Regions from separate parts of the Homo sapiens genome. Here region 2 is linked to region 1. Evidence: fine-mapped expression QTL. A gene starts in region 1. The other region holds a variant in brackets. All regions are shown on one strand. Distances are from middle to middle.

What was found. PIP is the estimated chance that this variant, and not a neighbour inherited with it, causes the effect.
Region 2: its variant is fine-mapped to the expression of VWCE in whole blood (INTERVAL, PIP 0.97).

Annotation. Positions count from the first base shown.
Region 1 is chr11:61,287,946-61,299,645 of GRCh38, forward strand. VWCE (von Willebrand factor C and EGF domains) reads right to left here and starts at 7,371. Exons shown (of 20, transcript NM_152718.2): 1 at 6,983-7,371; 2 at 3,537-3,631; 3 at 3,319-3,408; 4 at 2,854-2,982. The coding sequence starts at 7,092. It overlaps DDB1 (damage specific DNA binding protein 1), which reads right to left. Exons shown (of 27, transcript NM_001923.5): 27 at 11,506-11,700. RefSeq lists silencers at 6,191-6,450, 6,891-7,200, 7,381-7,450 and an enhancer at 6,422-7,124.
Region 2 is chr11:61,312,516-61,320,515 of GRCh38, forward strand. It overlaps DDB1 (damage specific DNA binding protein 1), which reads right to left. Exons shown (of 27, transcript NM_001923.5): 11 at 3,977-4,052; 12 at 3,770-3,878; 13 at 1,793-1,971; 14 at 1,532-1,695; 15 at 1,347-1,454; 16 at 984-1,191. Among named protein-coding and RNA genes, the nearest start is that of DDB1, 17 kb to the right of the region's middle. The variant C/T (reference allele first, on the strand shown) is at 3,485.

The DNA.
Region 1 (11,700 bases):
GAGATTGAGATTATCCTGGCCAACATGGTGAAACCCCGTCTCTACTAAAAAAAAATACAAAAATTAGCTGGGCATGCTGGCACGTGCCTGTAATCCCAGCTACTTGGGAGGCTGAGGCATAAGAATCGCTGAACCAGGAAGTCAGAGGTTGCAGTGAGCCGAGATCGCACCACTGCACTCCAGCCTAGCAACAGAGTGAGACTCTGTCTCAAAAAAAAAAAAAAAAAAAAAAAAGATGAGACTAAGTTGCAGTGACTAAATCCAAGTAGTACTTTACGAAGGTGAGCCTAGTGAGATGTTCTGATCTGAGGGATGATAGGAGCTGGGAGACAGATTTCCCCAAATCATGCTTCATGCCATCCCTTCCCTGCCAAAGATCCGCAGCAGCTTCTGAGGACCTACGGGCTCAGCTCAGTCTACTCAATCTGCACTCACTGTGTAGTGAGCCTCGCCACTGTGGCCCCCAAGCCCATGGGACACCCCCACTCTCCTTATCCCCTACTTAGCCTTCTACCCAGCAGCTACCCACTCTTCCCAACAGCTGGACCGTCAAGACCATGCTCAACACCGCTAAGAAGCCCACTCTGACTAACCCCATTCCACTGGGATGTCTCGTGGCTACAGTCAGTGCCACCCTGTCCTGCAAGTGCTTTGACATTGTTCTCTGGCTTTTCCTTGGTTCCGTTTGCCTCTGCAATGAGAAATACGTGCAGAAAATGTCCCAAGGTGAAAGGCATTCAGGAGCAGATCAATTGCTTCCATTGGTTTTCCTATCTGGAGGAGATGCTGCAACAAGCAATGAGCTCCAAGACCCCTTTATTGAGACCCTTGGACCCAACAGCGTCCTTCTGGGAAATAATCAGAGAAGCTGACAGGAAGCCTCTTTATGGCGCGTTTTTTTTTTTTTTTTTGAGACGGAATCTCGCTCTGTCACTCAGGCTGGAGTGCAGTGGCGCGAACTTGGCTCACTGCAACCTCCGCCTCCCGGGTTCAAGCAATTCTTCTGCCTCAGCCTCCTGAGTAGCTGGGATTACAGGCACCCGCCACCACACCCACCTAATTTTTGTATTTTTAGTAGAGACGGGGTTTCACCATGTTGGTCATGGCTGGTCTCGAACCCCTGACCTCGTGATCCACCCACCTCGGCCTCCCAAAGTACTGAGATTACAGCGGTGAGCCACCGTGCCCGGCCCTATGGCAGCATTATTTATACTGGTGAAACACTGCAAACCTCTTAAATAAGGGACAACAGACAAATAGTTATTTCAATTACAGCAACCACATATGTAACTGCTAAAAAAAAATTTTTTTTCTTTTTGTTTTTTTGAGACAGTCTTGCTCTGTCGCTAGGCTGGAGTGCAGTGGTGTGATCTCGGCTCACTGCAACCTCCACCTGCTGGGTTCATGCAATTCTCCTGCCTCGGCCTCCTGAGTAGCCGGGATTACAGGCATGTACCACTACACCAGCTAGTTTTTGTGTTTTTAGTAGAGACAGGGTTTCACCATGTTGGCCAGGCTGGTCTTGAACTCCTGACCTCAAGTGATCCACCCGCCTCGGCCTCCCAAAGTGCTGGGATTACAGGCGTGAGCCACCAAGCCTAGCGAAAAAAAAAATTATGTTGCAAGGAATTGTTAGTGATGCCTACAACATAAAGTTAGATGGGAAAAATAATAAAAGCTACAGATAAGATATAATCCCAGTTTTATAAAGCATACATATATGCTGCATGCTTAACATACATACACACACATACACACACTCACAAACACAGACACACCCAGGGAAAAGGGCAGGAAAAAAAACTTCATTTTAGTAACAAATATCTCCGGGTGGGGACTTCCAGAGAATGCTTATTTTCATCTTTCTCCTCTTACTTTCCAAATGTTCTACAATGAACTATCTCTTGCTTTTCTATTCAGGGGGAGAAATATTACTTTTACGAAGTTAAAACTCCAAAAAGGCTTTTGTCGCTCTGGAAAGATTGACAAGAAACTGGTCACAGTGACTGTTTCTGGGGAAGGTAACAGATTTTGTCCGTAGAAATGTTTTAAAAATCACAAGCAAATAATACATTCACAAACTAATTATTGAGTTTAGCGTCCCTCATCTTTTAAATGTCATTTTCCCAAGGAGCCTCCCCTGGCCAACCCTCCCAACTCTGGGTTCCATGCCCCTCTGTGGGCCCTGGCACCTTGCCCTTCCCAGTGAAGGTCCCCATGACAATGGAGCTGTTCTTGTCCTGTTACTTGTCTTCCTTCCTCATATTCAGAAACTCCCTAATGGGGCTGGGTGCGGTGGCTCACGCCTGTAATCCTAACACTTTGGGAGTCCGAGGTGGGTGGATCACCTGAGGTCAGGAGTTCGAGACCACCCTGGCCAACATGGCAAAACCCTGTCTCTACTAAAAATACAAAAATTAGCTGGGTGTGGTGGCACCCGCCTGTAATCCCAGCTACTGAGGAGGCTGAGGCAGGAGAATCATTTGAACCCAGGAGGTGGAGGCTGCAGTGAGCTGAGACCATGCTACTTCACTCCAGCCTGGGCAAAAGAGTGAAACTTCGTCTCAAAAAAAAAAAAAAAAAAAACTCCCTAACAGGGACCAACTGTGGCTCCCATAACCCCAGTCCCTAGCTCAGTTCCTGCCCCTAAGAAGTGCTCAATAAATAATTGTAAAATAACAGAAGTGACACATTTCTTTTGTTCTCATGTCTCTCTGCCCACTCTCAAACATCAGAGCCTATCTTGGCTCAGCTTAGCCTTGCAATACACTGGAGACCATCCTGGCAGGAGGGGGAGGAGATATAATTCCCGCTGTCCCCCTCCCCCTCCCCCACCACTCCCAGGCGTCTCACCTGTACACCTGATGCCAACAGCTGTCTCCGTCATCGAGAAGCCCACGGGGCACACTCGGGCCACCTCCTGACAGCCTCCATGGTTGCAGGTAAGGTCACAGCCGTACTCCCCACATGGTCCATGGGTTTCTAGAGCAGGCATCACACCAGTGAGCATGCACCCCGTGGCAGTCCCAACCATCCCCACTTCACCAGGGTCCTCCTGAATTCTGTTGGGAGGGTAGCTCTGAAGGCAAACAGGCCTGGGTTTAAATCCAGCTCTGCCATTTACCAGCTGTGTGACCCCGGGCAAGACAATAACTTCTGTGTCTCAGTTTCTTCATCTATAAAATGGGCACAAAATGTCTACCTAATGGAGTTGTCTGAAGCTGAGACACCAGGACACATCTCAAGTGCCCACTGCCCAGGACATAACCTCAATGCTCATTCATCTGTTCCCATCAGCCCCTTCCCATCCCCAGTTACCTGGGCAGGTGGCCCCTTGCTCTCCATCCTGGCAGGAGCAGACATTGGGAGCGATGCAGATGCCACTCCCACAGCCGAAGGAGCAGAGGGCTGAGAGGAGAAGTGCAGGTGAGACACGAGGAACTGGGGCCTCCCGTCTGCCCCTCGGACCAGGGACTGAGGGCTGGCAACACACACTGCTGGAGGAGAAGACTTGGGGCACAGGGACAAGCACTTACGCAGGGTGCAGTGCCCACCACCCATAGAGGGCGCCCAGCCAGGGCAGCAGCCACTCCCAAACCCAGAGAGGCAGACGTGGGGGCCCAGTCGGCGTCTGCAAGAGAAGAGAGAGCACTTTCCTCATTCTATACTGGGGGAGACATTGGTCAACAGGAAAGTCTCCCAGCCAGTGTGTAAGTGAATCAACAAACAATTCTCAAGAACTGTCTGGAGGGGCAATGGGAAGTTTCCAAAGAAAAATGACCCAAACAGTCTTCTCCTGGAGGCAAGACAGAGACAAAAGTGTGAGACAATAGATACTGGCCTCCTACAGATATCTGCCACGTGAACACACAGCAGAGTGGCCAGGAGAGGGGCCTCAGAGTTGAAGAAAGGCTGTGCAATAGATGAGGAGCCCCAGGGGTGGCTGCCTCAGGACCTTTGCACTTGCAGTTCCTGCTATAAGAAAGGTTCTTATGGCTGGGTGTGGTGGCTCACGCCTGTAATCCCAGCACTTTGGGAAGCCGAAGCAGGCTGATCATTTTGAGCCCAGGAGTTTGAGACCAGCCTGGGCAACATGGTGAAACCTCGTTTCTACTAAAAACACAAAAACTAGCTGGGCATGGTGACACACACCTGTAGGGTCAGCTACTCGGGAGGCTGAGGTGGGAGAATGGCTTGAGCCTGTGAGGCAGAGGTTGCAGCGAGCCAAGTTGGCGCCACTGCCCTTCAGCCTAAGTGACAGAGCCAGACCGTCTCAAAACAAAAAAAAAAAAAAGAGAGAGAGAAAGATTCTTCCTCAGACACACACTGGGCTTCCTCTCTCCCTTCACCCAGATCTCTGCCCATGGCACCTTCTCAGAGAGGCCTTCCTTGTCCACCCTTACCTTGCTTTATTCTCCACAACATTTACTTCCTGTGACATTAGATTTTAATTTATTAATTCATTGTCTCCCCTACAACTCCCTGATGACAAGGGTTTCTTATCTATTTACCCCAGCACGTACAGGAGTGCCTGGCATGTAGTAGGTGCTCAATAAATGGCTGTTGAGGGAAAGGTTGAGAAGGGCAATGGCATAGGTGACATCTCTTGGGTGGGTGTGGGGTCATGAATGAGCTGCCCAAAACTGGAGGCAGTAGGGGTCTGTTCAAGCAGGAATGAGGTCCAGAAAGGGCAGGAAGCCAGATGCATCCAACTGGTGCTGGGTGCTGAGTAAGGCGTGACCATACAGCCATAAACAAACTACTGCCCCCACCTTCAAGGAAAGTAGGGCAGACCAGGAGCTAGGTGATAACAGCATAGAGTGACAAATGCCACAGTGGGACAGACTGTGGAGCCCTGAGGAGGGTCAGGGGGGGTTCCTGGAAGGGCAGCATCTAGGCTGAGGTGAGAGAGAAAACTTTGGGAGGCCAAGGCAGGCAGATAACTTGAGGTCAGGAGTTTGAGACCAGCCTGGCCAACATGGCAAAACCCTGTCTCCACTAAAAAAAAAATACAGGCCGGGCGCGGTGGCTCACGCTTGTAATCCCAGCACTTTGGGAGGCCAAGGCGGGCGGATCACCCGAGGTCAGGAGTTTGAGACCAGCCTGACCAACATGGAGAAACCCCGACTCTACTAAAAATGCAAAATTAGCCGGGCATGGTGGCGCATGCCTGTAATCCCAGCTACTTGGGAGGGTGAGGTAGGAGAATTGCTTGAACCTGGGAGGCGGAGGTTGCGGTGAGCTGAGATCACGCCACTGCACTCCAGCCTGGGCAACAAGAGCAAAACTCCATCTCAAAAAAAAAAAAAAAAAAAAAAAAAATTAGCCAGGTGTGGTGGCATGTGCCTGTTGTCCCAGCTGCTCGAGAGGCTGAGGCATGAGAATCGCTTGAACCCAGAAGGCAGAGGCTGCAGTGAGCCGAGATCGCACCACTGCACTCCAGCCTGGGTGACAGAATAAGATTCTGTCTCAAAAAAAAAAAAAAAAAAAGTAGGGCAGCCAGCAAAAGAAGAGGAAGGGAGAGGGTGTTCTAGCAGGGGAAACAGCACAACTGCAGGCCTGGAGGGGGACAGAGAGGACAACTGCAACCAGCTCCAGTCATGGACTGGACAGAGGGTGATGAAATCCAGCCTGGTTTGAGCTTCCAACCCCACCGCAACAGAAAAGGGACAAGAAACCCCTTCCCAATGGTGTTCCACCAATGTTCAGAGCGGAGGGAAGATGATTCTGCGAGGCAGGCACTTTGTAAAGCACCCACTCTGCGCTGGGCACTGGGGACATGGGACAAGGCAAACTTAGCGTGTTCTTGGGGAGAAAAATCTGTGCCAAAATGTGACAAGTATTCCGGAAAGGGAAGCTCAGGGTGCAATGGCAGCACACAAAAGTCTGAGGAAAGCTGTCCCTGGGGCCTTTTTCCCTCTCTGAGGTCATCACAGAAGAAAGGGGGGGCCCTCCTGCTGGCGGGAGCTGGCAGTGAAGTCTCATCCACCCCCTTGCTGGAGTGATTATGGCAGCAGCCTGAGAAGGAGGGGACCGGGCGAATGAGCGGAGCCTTGGGACTCTCAGAAACGGACAGGCAGTGCCACCAAGGCGGCAGATAAAAGGGTGCCCAGGGAGGCTGATGGAGTCGAACTCTCAGGTGGGCAGGGACCGAGCACCCGCCAGAGCGCCCTAAGGAGCCTCCTAGGGCTGGTGACAGAGGGACAGGTGGTGGGAGCCTGTGGAACGCCGGGGAGTCGGGGCAGGTTCTGAGCAGGAACTGGCGGTGGCTGTGGAACACACGTGTGAGCTACAAGCCTGGCCGGGCCGCCCCCGCTGCGCGCCCCCCGGAGGACGTGGCCGCGGGCCAGGCCGCCTGCTGACACAGTGTTCCCTAGCTCCGAGCATCACGCACACACGCGCACGGCCCCACCGCGGCCCGGGGGAAAGCACGTGCGGAGGGCGGCATCCATCGCGAAAGACAGCGGAGGGGCATGCACCCCACCCCCACGCGCGCACACGCACGGACAGAAAACGAAAAGTGACCCAGAGACCCCGGCTGTTCCAAGGTCCATGAAGTTCGTAGGGCCAAGACCCAGGGAAAGCCCCGCGCGGCAGGGGAGGCCAGGCGCTGCCCGGGCAGAGCCACGGGCACGCTGGGGGGTGAGCCAGCCAGTCCGGAGACCAGATGGCACGTCCTGGGCTCCCCTCTCCAGAGGTCCGCGCTCCAGGGCACATTAGGAGTCACCCAACGCCTGGACCTCCGATCTCCCAGGTCCCAGTCTGGACAGCCCCAGCCAGGGGGGCACGATGAGCACCCGCCTAGAGGCACAAGTTGCTGACTCTTTGTGCCGTCCCCGAGCTGTGCCCGCGCTGATAGCACCCCAGAGGAAGCCCCGACACGCGGCTGCCTGCGGCTCCTGAGCGCCCCTCCGCGCCTCTCGACTGCACGCCGGTAGCGCTCTCCCGGGCGGGGGAGCGGGGAGGAGCTCCGGGCGCTTACCTCTCGGCCGCGAAGTGCCCGGGCGGCTTCCTCCCGGTGTAGCCTCGGGCTGGTGCCCCCGGCAGCAGGAGCGCGACACAGGCGGCCCGAAGGAGCAGTCCGGCCCACATGACCGGCGGCGGCGGGTCCCCCGGGCTGGGCTCGGCTCCTGCGCCGCGCGCGGGAGAGGGGGCTGCCGGCCCTCGCCCCTCCTCCTGGCGCCGTGGGGAGCGAACCAGCGATCCCCGAAATGGCACGCAGAGCTGAGCAGGGGGGCTTGGGACGCCGAGAGGAGGGGCCGAGGGCCGCGAGGGGACGCGGCGGACGATTGTGGGGAGGGTCTCTGGCACCTCGAAGCGAAACACACAAAGGCAACGCCGCCCGCCTGCTGATGCCTCTCCGAGAGGCGCGGAGCCCGGGGCGGGGGCAAAGATCAGGGACCCCTGGGGGCGGGGTTTCGCCCTCGGCCCACACCCCCTGCCCCGGTTTGGGAGTCGGCTTCCTGCGAAGCGCTGACTGAAGGCGTCAGACCGAGGCCCCGGGAGGAAACAGACTTCGGGAACAAGGCTAGCACCAGAGGCTGCGCGCCCCGGGCATGGCCCCTGTCGGTGGGACCCGAGACGCCTTGTTGTGACGAGGTGGGAACCGTGGAAATTCGAACCCACGACGCCAGGTCGCTGTGCCGCTGAGCAGTTCTAGGCCTGCCCCCAGCCTGCCAGAAGGTCTGCACCCTAACGCCGGAGTGCGTTGATCTGTGGGTCCAACCGCTCCCTGGCCTGGGGCCCTAGCCACTTTTGAAGCCCCGGGCTCCTCTGGGCACCCAGGGGGCAGATGGCCGGCCTCCCGACTGCTGGTGGCAAGACCAGGAAGCAGCTGGCGCCGTTGGCAGTGGAGAGGCAGCAGCAGATCTGGAAGGCTCCTCTTTGCCCCTTCTGCAGCTGCCCCAGGCCGTGGTCAGAGACTGGGGGGCTGCCTAGGGATTTAGGCAAAGAAGGGGTGCGGAAATCAAAATCATCCCGCTGGGAGAAAGCTGAAAGGATAACTGATTTTACCTTCTGCTCCATGCAGTAATCTTTCCCTTAGCCACCCACAATTAGTCAAGATTTTGCTTAAATACTTCCAGGGGTAAGAAACTCACTATCTGTTAAGAAGCGGCCCAATCCAGTTTTGAACCACATTTGTTTTAAAGTGTCTTCACTTCCCAGTTGAACAATCCCTGTTCCTTTGGCCTTCCTGCTACCTCTGCCTTTACTGAGGTGCTTAACATTGGTGGCCACAAATGGACATGGCGTACCAGCGGTGGCCTGGACTCGTGCCTCCTTCCTGCAGACACCATACTTTTACTAATGCACCCTAATATTACGTTTTTGGCAACCCCATGATGTTAATTATGACACATTGAGTTTGCAGTAAAGAAAAACCACAGGTGGCCGGGCGCGGTGGCTCACACCTGTAATCCCAGCACTTTGGGAGGCTGAGGTGGGCGGATCACCTGAGGTCAGGAGTTCCAGAACCAGCCTAGCCAATATGGTGACGCCCCATCTCTACTAAAAATACAAAAATTAGCTGGGCATGGTGGCGGGCGCCTGTATTCCCAGCTACTCAGGTTGAGGCAGGAGAATCACTTGAACCCAGGAGGCAGAGGTTGCAGTGAGCCAAGATTGCACCATTGCACTCCAGCCTGGGCGACAGAGCAAGGCTCCATCTCAAAAAAAAAAAAGAACGAAAAAAAGCAGGCATTTTTTGTTGTGCTTTTATGTTATTTAAACACAAGCTGCCAAGTGGTCTCCCTACCTGAAGCTGTGTGGCCCCATTTTTTTTTTTTTTTTTTTAGATGGAGTCTTTCTCTGTCGCCCAGGCTGGAATGCAGTGGCACGATTTCGGCTCACTGCAACCTCCATCTCCCGGGTTCAAGCAATTCCCCTTCCTCAGCCTCCCGAGTAGCTGGGACTACAGGCGCACATCACCATGCCCAGGTAATTTTTGTATTTTTAGTAGGGACGGGGTTTCACCATGTTGACCAGGCTGGTCTTGAACTCCTGACCTCAAATGATCCACCCACGTCAGCCTCCCAAAGTGCTGGGATTACAGGCGTGAGCCACCGCACCCGGCTTGTGGCTACATTTTTGCAGACATTCACCTTGAGGCCGTATCTCACCTTGTTTGTTTTGGCCCATTTTCTTGTCAACATATTCTCAACAAGTAGGAGCCAAAATATTCTGTAACATAAGATGAATGCAATTTCCGTCATATCCATTCTGAGTCCCAAGGACCCTCGGAATCCTAAGGCATCTTTCTCTCTTGCCCCAAACATCTGAAGGTTACACTTTCCCCCTCCACTGCCCCTAAACCACCAATGTCAAATAGGTGCTCTTTTTTCCTGGCCCTAGGGGAGCTACCCAAATTTTCAACAGGCATACACAGAACAAGTGTCCACATGGCTTCCATATTTCATGCCATCTTCTCACACTCCAGCACACCTCAGCTACCTCTGTTCTTAGCTACATTATGGAGCCCCACCTGCTCCACCTCACCCTGTAAAACTCACTCCCTGGCAGAGTTTGCTCCATATTGGCCAATGAGCAGCTGGAATAGCTGAGATGCAACTTTGTGCTTGAAGAAAACCCACATCTACCCTAAGGAATTTAGGATACTTAGTACACAGTAAATTCCTGTTAGTGAATCTCCAAACAACGTCCAAACTGCCCCTGGCATTTCTTTCATTTCCCCATAAAGTTTCTGTGACCTTATGGCATTCACCTTGCTCCTATCAACATTTTCCCCTTTAGTTTGGTTTTTGTTTTTCTTGTCTTTTTGTTTGACCCTGAGGTTTCTCAGTTTGGACACAGAGTCTCTAACTTACTATTGTTCAAGACTAGTTCGGGCATATCCCTTGATTGCAGTTCCTGTGTTTCTTCCCACTTCTGTGGCTTGTGGTTTCTCAGTAACAAAAGGGACCCTCCACCGAGGGTGGAGGATCCAAGTTGTTGTTGGCTGCAGAATGACAGCCTCTGGCTTGTGATCCCTTCAAATGGTCATGTGATGAGTCAGTGTTTCTATTATTCTCCCAAAGGTCCCTTCGTGCAGAGGCCTGGAGTGATGCTAGTTCATCAGCGCCTACATGGAATGGAGCTGTTCCAGTTGGCTACAGCCACGCTCCAAAGACAACCTTTCACCCCTAGAGAGGTGATTAATGGTGTTTAAGAGGGGATGTGGGAGTATGGCAGCAGAACATCAGTTTCCAAAGTTGGAATTCAATCCCGAGTGAATACACCCAAGAGTGTACAAAACAAAAAATCAGCAAAACATAGCAAGGACTCCACAGGCTTCCAAATTCAAGACAAGTCATTGACAACCTTCTTCTCAATAGCAGGTCTCAGCAGCTGCAGGTCAGACCACAAAAGTGCCCCAGAATGATCATCCCACCACATTCTGTCTTTCTGATTATGACACCTTATAGTCAGCGCTCCCATCTAGGATTAAATTTTTAAAATAATCACAATGTGGAGACTGTTGCTTGCCTGCCTCATTAAAGCTGGCCTCTGGCAGGGGGGCAGGCCCTTTCAAATTCAAACTATGACTTCTAGAATTCAAATCACAGTGTTGGGTTTCCAGTTCAACCTGTGGTTTTTGAGAGGCTGATTATTTTTTGTTAAGACCCTTATCCCCCACCCGCAGAACTCTCAGAAGAGTAAGGGGAAAAAAAGGTAATAAAACACAAGGAATTCCTTCAGGGAAGGAAACTTCCTCCAGAAGACCCTCAAACCAGGGATGCTTCTTAGCTCTTTTCTTTTTAAGCTAGAATCTCTCAAAACCACAATTTGAACTTGCAACCACAATTTTCCTGACACTGTATCAAAGGCTGGTCTTAAAGGAGCCACCAATATGCCTAGTATCAACCCTACTCCACCGTGGGGACAGAGCAGCCTTTCTTCCCACCGGATCACTGAGAGAAACGTGGTCCCAGACATTGGCCCACCAAGCTGAAAAGAAGACAGGCTTTGTTTGCCAGACAGAAGAGTGAATCCCATATGTGCCCTACTCCTGCTGTATTCTCAAACCAAAAGCACCAAAGGTTCACTTGATTAGATCAGAGGAAACAAAATGAGGGTCCAAAGGGCATGTGGCAACAAGCAGCTGGGAGGTACATGAGGAGCTACTAGGTGGCCTGGGGGCTAGATGACTGGACACTGCACACAGAGCTGGCTATAAAACCAGGAAAGGCAGTCCAGGCAACCCCCAGGCCCAGCAGGTTACCGACAGAGGCAAGTAAGAATCAAATGGTGTCAAGGACAACCAAAAAGACCAGTGAATTTCTAAGCCCATCATCCTTGGGATCCCATCAAACAATCACGTGATGAAGAAGAGGTATAGATGTCTTCACTTTCACTACTTGAAAAGAGCTGTTCTAACAGCAAGGGCAAGTGAATGCAACAACTGCCATAAAAGGGAGGATACTGCCTAAGTTCGCAGTAAATTAAGAATAGTTAACCTGGAGTCCTGGATAGCTGGGCAGGGTGAATAAAAGCAAAAACAAATGTACCTTTCTTCTTATATTCTACTTTATTTGGTAAAACTCAGAAACTAACAATTCACATCCTCCCACCTTCTTCTTTCCGAAGAAGGCAGTTTGCAGAGACAAAAGGGCTGTGGCGTGGGGATCATCCACCATCTCCAGGTTTTACACCCAGGCTACCCATGGCTTGGCAGTCAGGCCTCTAGGCCTGATGCTCTCAGAG
Region 2 (8,000 bases), 23 kb after region 1:
TTTTTTTTTTTGAGACAGAGTCTCAGCTCTGTTATTCAGGCTGGAGTGCAGCGGTGAAATCTAAGCTCACTGCAACCTCCACCTCCCAGTTTCTTTTTTTTTAAGACAGTTTTTTTTCTTGTCACCAGGCTGGAGCGCAATGGTGGGATCTTGGCTCACTGAAAACTCTGCCTCCTGGGTTCAAGTGATTCTCCTGCCTCAGCCTCCTGAGTAGCTGGGATTACAGGTGCCTGCCACCACACCCGGCTAACTTTTGTATTTTTAGTAGAGATGGGGTTTCGCCATGTCGGCCAGACTGGTCTCGAGCTCCTGACCTCCGGTGATCCACCCACCTCAGCCTCCCAAAGAGCTAGGATTACAGGCATGAGCCACTGCACCCAGCAACCTTCCAATTTCAAGGGAATCTCCTGCCTCAGCCTCCCAAGTAGCTGGGATTACAGGCACACACCACCATACCTGGCTAATTTTTGTATTTTTATTAGAGACAAGGTTTCACCATGTTGGCCAGGCTGGTCTCAAACTCCTGACTTCAAATGATCCTCCTGCCTCGGCCTCCCAAAGTGCCGGGACTACAGGTGTGAGCCACCATGCCCAGCCAGAGAATCTGCATTTCTAACAAGTTCCCAAGTAATGCTGTAGCTGCTGGTTGGGGACACCCTTTGAGAATTCCTGCTCTAGAGGGACACAAAATGATCTCTAAATTAGGGATTATGAAACAGTCATCTGAATCACCTGATAAGTTTTCTGAAAATACAGATTCCAGAGCTCAACCTCAGACCCACTGAGGATTCCAAAAATCCTGTAGTTTTAAAAAACTTCCCAAGTGTTTCTATTGGGTAGCCAGTTTTGAGAACCTCTGCACTATACTTCCCATCTCAGTTATGATTTTGACACCGGAAAAAGGCTTTGAGGTAAGGGTTTGAGGAAAACATCATGACCCCCTCAATCAATAGCTCTCATTAAATAAGGAAAAAGAGACTCACCTGTCAGGATAGCCATCTGAATTGAGGGGACACATGTAGTTCACTTCCTTGAGGTTGACATTTGAGAAGACCAATTTGTGGTTGCTGCTATAGATGACAGTGGGGCGGTCAGAACAAGCAAAGACGTTGGTGGTAGAAAGAGAACGAAAAGTCCTCAATACGGTGGGCTGGGTGCCCAAAGTCACCTTCTTACGGTCGCTCAACAGACCTACAGAGAGAATGACATCAGGAGAAAGGAAGAAAGAAAACAGGACAAAAAGCTGGCCTGTGAAAGTTCAAAAGCAGAACCCTGGGACTAAGAATTCTGTGTAATTCTAATACTCTATTTTTGAAAGAGTCCCTCACTCAAAATACTACTCTCACCTGTCTCAATGTTGAGCCCAAAGTAGAAAAGCGCTCCATCTCCCAAGGCACAAAGGAGGTAATGGCTACTCTCAAAGGTGGTCATCAGGATGGAGCGAGGAATGATCTCTGTGAGAAAGGGGGACATTATGTTCTTGTTCCACATTTTGACTCTGTCCCAACCCAGGTCCCTAAATGACACATACCTCCACCCAGCATCTCCTTGTGCAGTAGTTCAAAAGAGGGCAACTTCAAGATACGAGCCGAGATGTCCGTCCAGAGGCCAATGGCACAAAGAGGGGACAGTCCATTGCTGTCTCCTAATGGGGTGATGTCCAAGCAAGCCACTTCATGTTCCATCTCTGTGTGGCTGAACAAAGAAGAATATGGCAGAGGAAGGAATCCAAGGCTCAAAGAAGTCCTAGAGAAAAGAGGAGGAAAGCGAGCAGACAGAAAAACACACACACCTGATCTGCCGGAGCTCCTGAGGATGGATCTGCAGATAGTAGAGGGCCCTGCCTACAGCCACCACCACCTGGCTGCTATTGCAGGAGGCCACACTGATGTTCTTGGCCTGAGGCTCCTTCCATTCACTGACCAGAGCTTTGGGTTCTTGAGAGACCAACCTCACCGATGCTGAAGTGATCTAGATAAACAGCAGATGAACAAATGTCTCCAAGCATCTGCCAGGGTCCACACAGGAGTGGAAAGGTGGTAAATGCAGCCCTAATAGAGCCCTACGAATAAGCTACATGAGGCTTCTATTTCTTATTCCCCAAAGTCCTGCTAATGATTACAATAGATGTCATTTTTGCATGAATGCCTGAAGGAGGCCAGCTTAAAAGTAGCTTACAGCTTACAAACCTACAGCTGGTGGGGAAAAGGCCTATTTCATTCTAATTGAGACTTACTTGGGTAATACAAACTGCATCCTGTGGGAAGATATGAATAGAGTAAGACCCTGTGACCACCAGTTTTTTGGCTTTTTTTTTTTTTTTTTTTTTTTTGGGACAGAGTCTCTCTCTGTTGCCCAGGCTGGAGTGCAGTGGTGCAATCTCAGCTCACCACAACCTACGCCTCCCAGGTTCAAGCCATTCTCCTGCCTCAGCCTCCCAAGTAGCTGCGATTACAGGCGCATGCCACCATGCCTGGTTAACTTTTGTTTTTTGAGTAGAGATGGGGTTTCACCATGTTGGCCAGGCTGATCTTGAACTCCTGACCTCATGATCCACCTGCCTTGGCCTCCCAAAGTGCTGGGATTACAGGCGTGAGCCACCATGTTGACTGTGACCACCAGTCTTAGCAGTTTTTCTCAACCCCCAAATCAGACCTCTAAAATATCTAAGTTCTTTACTGTGTATGAGCCATTTAAATTATTTAAAGTTCCTTAGTAAAGATTACAAAATTGTATAGAAATATATTGTATAAATTTATCACTGAAATAAAACAGGAAGTAGGTTGGTGACACTGTTATCTATTCATTCATCTTACCTAGCACAATTGAGTTTATATATAAGGATGAAAGCTCTTTAATAATAAATAGGTGAGCTGGTGCCAGTCTTCAGGCCAATAGTTAGATAACACTGACAAAGCAATGACTCAGTATCTGGGCACGTCCCACACTTGGTCTGCAAACTGACAGAACTTTCCCTCCGGTTTTACCAATCTACCACTGCCAGGTGGCTAAAAGGAAAACCAGGTGGATAAAAAGACAGAGACAGTTCATTAATCCTTAGGCACTCCAGTGCCCTACCCACCAAAGGCAAGACAGACTCTGGCCACAGAGTGAAGAACAGCTCAGAAGGTAAGGAGAGAGTGCTAAAAGCTGAAGGATGTCAGGGTCACTCCAAACTTCAAAAAATTGCTGAGGGGTGGAAGGGTGTCAGAAATGAGGCTCTCGTGGATAACAATATGCCAGAAGGCTATCTGCCCCCGTATTGCAGATAGATTGAAAGTAAGGATCAGAATAGGGTAAGCTTCGGTTATAATTAGTATGTGGAAAGGGCTGCCAAGAGTCATATTGGATGGTAGCATCATGATTTTTTCTTTTTTTGTGCATTTTGGCATTTTCTAATTTTATAAATAAGGATGTATCACTAGTTTAACAAAGGGAAAAAATTTGAGTGTCTCGGAAGATATAATTAGTGCTAAAATAGGAT[C/T]CGAAACTATATTTTTATGTTTATATATATAATGACCCGAGTCTATAAAAGAAAATGTAAATAAATACACAGACATTTGCAGAAGAAAAATAAAGCTAAAAGGAGCAACTCTAAGGTTAAGAGTTGTGATCTCTGAGTAGTGGATTATCTGTAATTTTTTCCCTAGAATTTTTACATTATTTTTGGAGCCATAAAAATTGGTTGTTTTAAAATCCAGTGGTGCTCTGTACTGCATCTAGGTCAATTCAAGTATATGGTAACACCTGCCCCTTTCTCAGTTATCACCTGGATAAGCTGCTGATGAGCCACGTTGCCACAGAAGAAAGTCTGCTGATCATCCACGAAACCCATCAGTTCGGTTTCTTCTACCTCCTCTCCATTTAACATGAGAACTCTGCAGCAGAATGGAGGGCCTGGGTCAGCCTGGGACCAGCTTCCCCACCTCACAACCTTCTCACCAGCACCTACAGCTGGCACTAGACCCATCCTTACCTTGTCTGGCCCACAAAAGAGAGCACCAAAGTGTCATCAGTCTCACGATTAGGGTCAGACCGCAGTGGCCATAATCCTGGAACAAGGACCAAGGATTCAGATGCATAGGACAGACCAACACTTAGCATGCATATCTACGGACAGGGCAGGCCAGGGGCAGTGGCTCATGCCTATAATCTCAACACTTGGGAAGGCAGAGGCAGGAGGACTGCTTGGAACCAGGAGTTCTAGACCAGCCTGGGCAAAATGGAGAGACCTTGTCCCTGCTAAAAATACAAAAGAACTTGCTAGGTGTGGTGGCACAAAACTATAGTCCCAGCTACATGGGAGGCTGAGGTGGGGGGATTGCTTAAGATTAGGAGAAAGAGGCTGCAGCTATGATCATGTCATTGCACTCCAGCCTGGGTGACACAGCAAGATCCTGTCTCAAAAAAAAAAAAAAAAAAAAAGGATAGATATATATATATATATATATATATATATATATATATATATATATATATATATAGACATGGCAGCCTGACACCACTGGAAGGGCTGGAACATGGAGTCCTGAGCTGGAACCCCCTCTCTGCTCCTTCTTGGTTTTAAGGCTCTAAAAAGTTAAATAGTTTTGTTTTGTTTGTTTGCTTGTTTTTTTTGAGACGGAGTCTCGCTCTGTCACCAGGCTGGAGTGCAGTGGCCCGATCTCAGCTCACTGCAAGCTCCACCTCCCGGGTTCACACCATTCTCCTGCCTCAGCCTCCCGAGTAGCTGGGAAGGCAGGTGCCCGCCACCACACCTGGCTAATTTTTTGTATTTTTAGTAGAGACAGGGTTTCACCATGTTAGCCAGGATGGTCTCGATCTCCTGACCTCGTGATCCGCCACCTTGGCCTCCCAAAGTGCTGGGATTACAGGCGTGAGCCACCACGCCGGGCCAAAAGTTAGATAATTTTAAAGCTGTTTTGAGCCTATTTTAAATTTGGGATTGGATATACATTTCCATGACCCAAAGTCTAAATTTATTTATTTATTTATTTACTTATTTATTTGAGACGGAGTCTTGCTCTGTCACCCAGACTGGGGTGCAATGGCACGATCTCGGCTCACTACAACCTCCGCCTCCCGGGTTCAAGCGATTCTCCTGCCTCAGCCTCCTGAGTAGCTGGGACTACAGGTGCGTGTCACCACGCCTGGCTAATTTTTTCTATTTTTAGTAGAGACAGGATTTCACCGTGTTAGCCAGGATGGTCTCGATCTCCTGACCTCATGATCTGCCCACTCGGTCTCCCAAAGTACTGGGATTACAGGTGTGAGCCACTGTACCCAGCCTAAATTTATTTTTTAAAAGTACACAGAAAAGTCTCATTCCCATACCTCCCTCCAACCCATCCCCCAAACAAGTAATCAATAAAGGCATCTTGTTTAGCCTTCTGGTAAAGAGATGGGGTGTGGGAGGATCTTGCTATGTTGCTCCAGTCTGGCCTCGATCTCCTGGGCTCAAGTGATCCTCCCACCTCAGCCTCCTGAACAGTAAGGACTACAGGCCCACTATGCAACACTAAGCTTAATTTTTTTTACTTTAAGGAAATAGAGTATTACAAACAAATGCAAATATAAAATAGTCTATCATGCACTATTTGGCACCTTGTTCTTTCATTGAACAATATATGCTTGAAGCCCTTATCAGAACACAGTATTTAATTGTGTAAATCATTTATCTATAATTATTAAATTATGCAGATTAACAAATCCCTTCTCATTATATTTATTCAGTATTTTGCTATAACATACAATGCCACAAGAAATAAGCTTGTATTTTTATGTCACTTTATACATATAAAGGTCAGGTAGAGGCTCAGAACTGGGACTACTAAGTAAATCGCTAACTGCTGTCTTTGATATTGCCCAATTCCCTTCTATAGAGGATGCACAAGCATGTTTATTTTCTCACAGCCCGACCAACATAATGTGTGGTCAAACTTCTGGATTTTGGTCATCTAGTAGAGTACTGCTGTTTGGTGTTAATGTGCATTTCTCAGGACTGTTGCCTGTCCATTCATGTCCTTTGCTAGTTTGGGGACAGAAAATTTAGTGATCTTTCTATAAATATGTTATAAATTAGGAAGACTGGGCCTTTTGTCTATAAGATGAACTACAGAATATTTTTATCTGGTTTGTCATTTCTTCTGACTTACCTAATAGTGTTTTGTTTTGCTTTTGCTATGAAGTGTTTTATTTTTATATAGTTGGAATTTATCAATCTTTCTTTTTGGCTTCTGTACTTTGAGTCATAGTTATGGCTTCATTTTTTTACATTAAGTTTTTCAACCATTTAGATTCTAGCCAAGTGTACATTTGGCAGGCAGTATGAACCCAAACTTGTCTTTTCCCAAATGACTATCAATTATCCCAAAAACACCATTTATTAGGTCCCAACTTTAGGCTAGGCTCAGTGGCTCATGCCTGTGATTACAGCACTTCAGAAGGCCAAGGCGGGAGGACCGCTTGAGCCTAGGAGTTTGAGACCAGCCTGGGCAACATAGGGAGACCCTGTCTCTACCTCTACCAAACACAAACAAAATTAGCCAGGCGTGGTGGCGCATGGTTGGAGTCCCAGCTACTGGGAGGCTGACATAGAGAAGATCTCTTGAACCCAGGATATTGAGGCTATGGTAAGCCGTGATCATGCCACTGTACCCCAGCCTGGGTGACAGAGTGAGACCCTATCTCAAAAAATGAATACAAATAAAAATTTAAAAAGTCCCAACTTTACTCACTGAACTGAGAAGCCACCACTATCATACACTGAATTTCCACATGTAATTATGTCATTTCTGGACTTCTGAATCTGCCCATTAGACTCTGCCTATTCATCAGCAATACTACACTTCTAATTATAGAGGCTTAACAGTATGCTTCAGTATCTGGTAGGGCTAACATGTCTCACTGCTTTCTTTTTTTTTCTTTTTTTTTTTGAGATGGAGTCTTGCTGTGACGCCAGGCTGGAGTGCAGTGGCACGATCTCGGCTCACTGCAACCTCCGCCTCCTGGGTTCAAGTGATTCCCCTGCCTCAGCCTCCCGAGTAGCTGGGACTACAGGCACGCGCCACCACCCCCGGCTAATTTTTTGTATTTTAGTAGAGATGGGGTTTCACCATGCTGGCCAGGATGATCTCGATCTCCTGACCTTGTGATCTGCCCGCCTCGGCCTCCCAAAGTGCTGGGATTACAGGCATGAGGCATTGCGCCCGGCCTCTCATTGCTCTTTTTAAAGTTTTCCTGGTTATGCCTGCTTCTTCCTTTTTCCATTTGGACTTGTCTAAGTCAAGGAAACATTGTATACATATTCAGGTACATTAAATATAAAGAGAGAACAGCTTTATAATACTGATTTGCAGTACTTGGTGTGTCTTTTTCGTTTGATCAACTTGTTCTTTTCCTCCTTCAGGAGTATCTTTAAGTTTTCCTTGTATAGGTTTTGCACAATTTTGTTAAATGTACTCCTTGGTACTTAATCATTTTCTTGTTATGGTAAATTGCCCCCTTTCCTCTACTATGCTTTCTAATTGACTGTGTTTACATGAAAGCTATTAATTTCAGTACATTACTTTTACATCCTGCTATCTTAGTGAATTTGTATTGTCTATAGTAGTTTTTTAGTTGATTATCTTGGGTTTGTAGTTATATGATCTCTTCCTTTGCAATTTCATATACTTCTCTTTTCTTTTTTTCTTTTTTTTTTTGAGATGGAGTCTCACTATGTGGCCCAGGCTGTAGTGCAGTGGCGCAGTCTCAGCTCACTGCAACCTCCGCCTCCCAGGTTCAAGTGCCTCTCCCGTCTCAGCCTCCCGAGTAGCTGGGATTACAGGCACCCACACCATGCCTGGCTAATTTTTTGTATTTTTAGTAGAGACAGGGTTTCACCATGTTGGCCAGGCTGGTCTCGAACTCCTGGCCTCAGGTAATCCACCCACCTCAGCCTCCCAAAGTGCTGGGATTACAGGTGTCAGGCAACATGCCTGGCCATACTTCTATTTCTT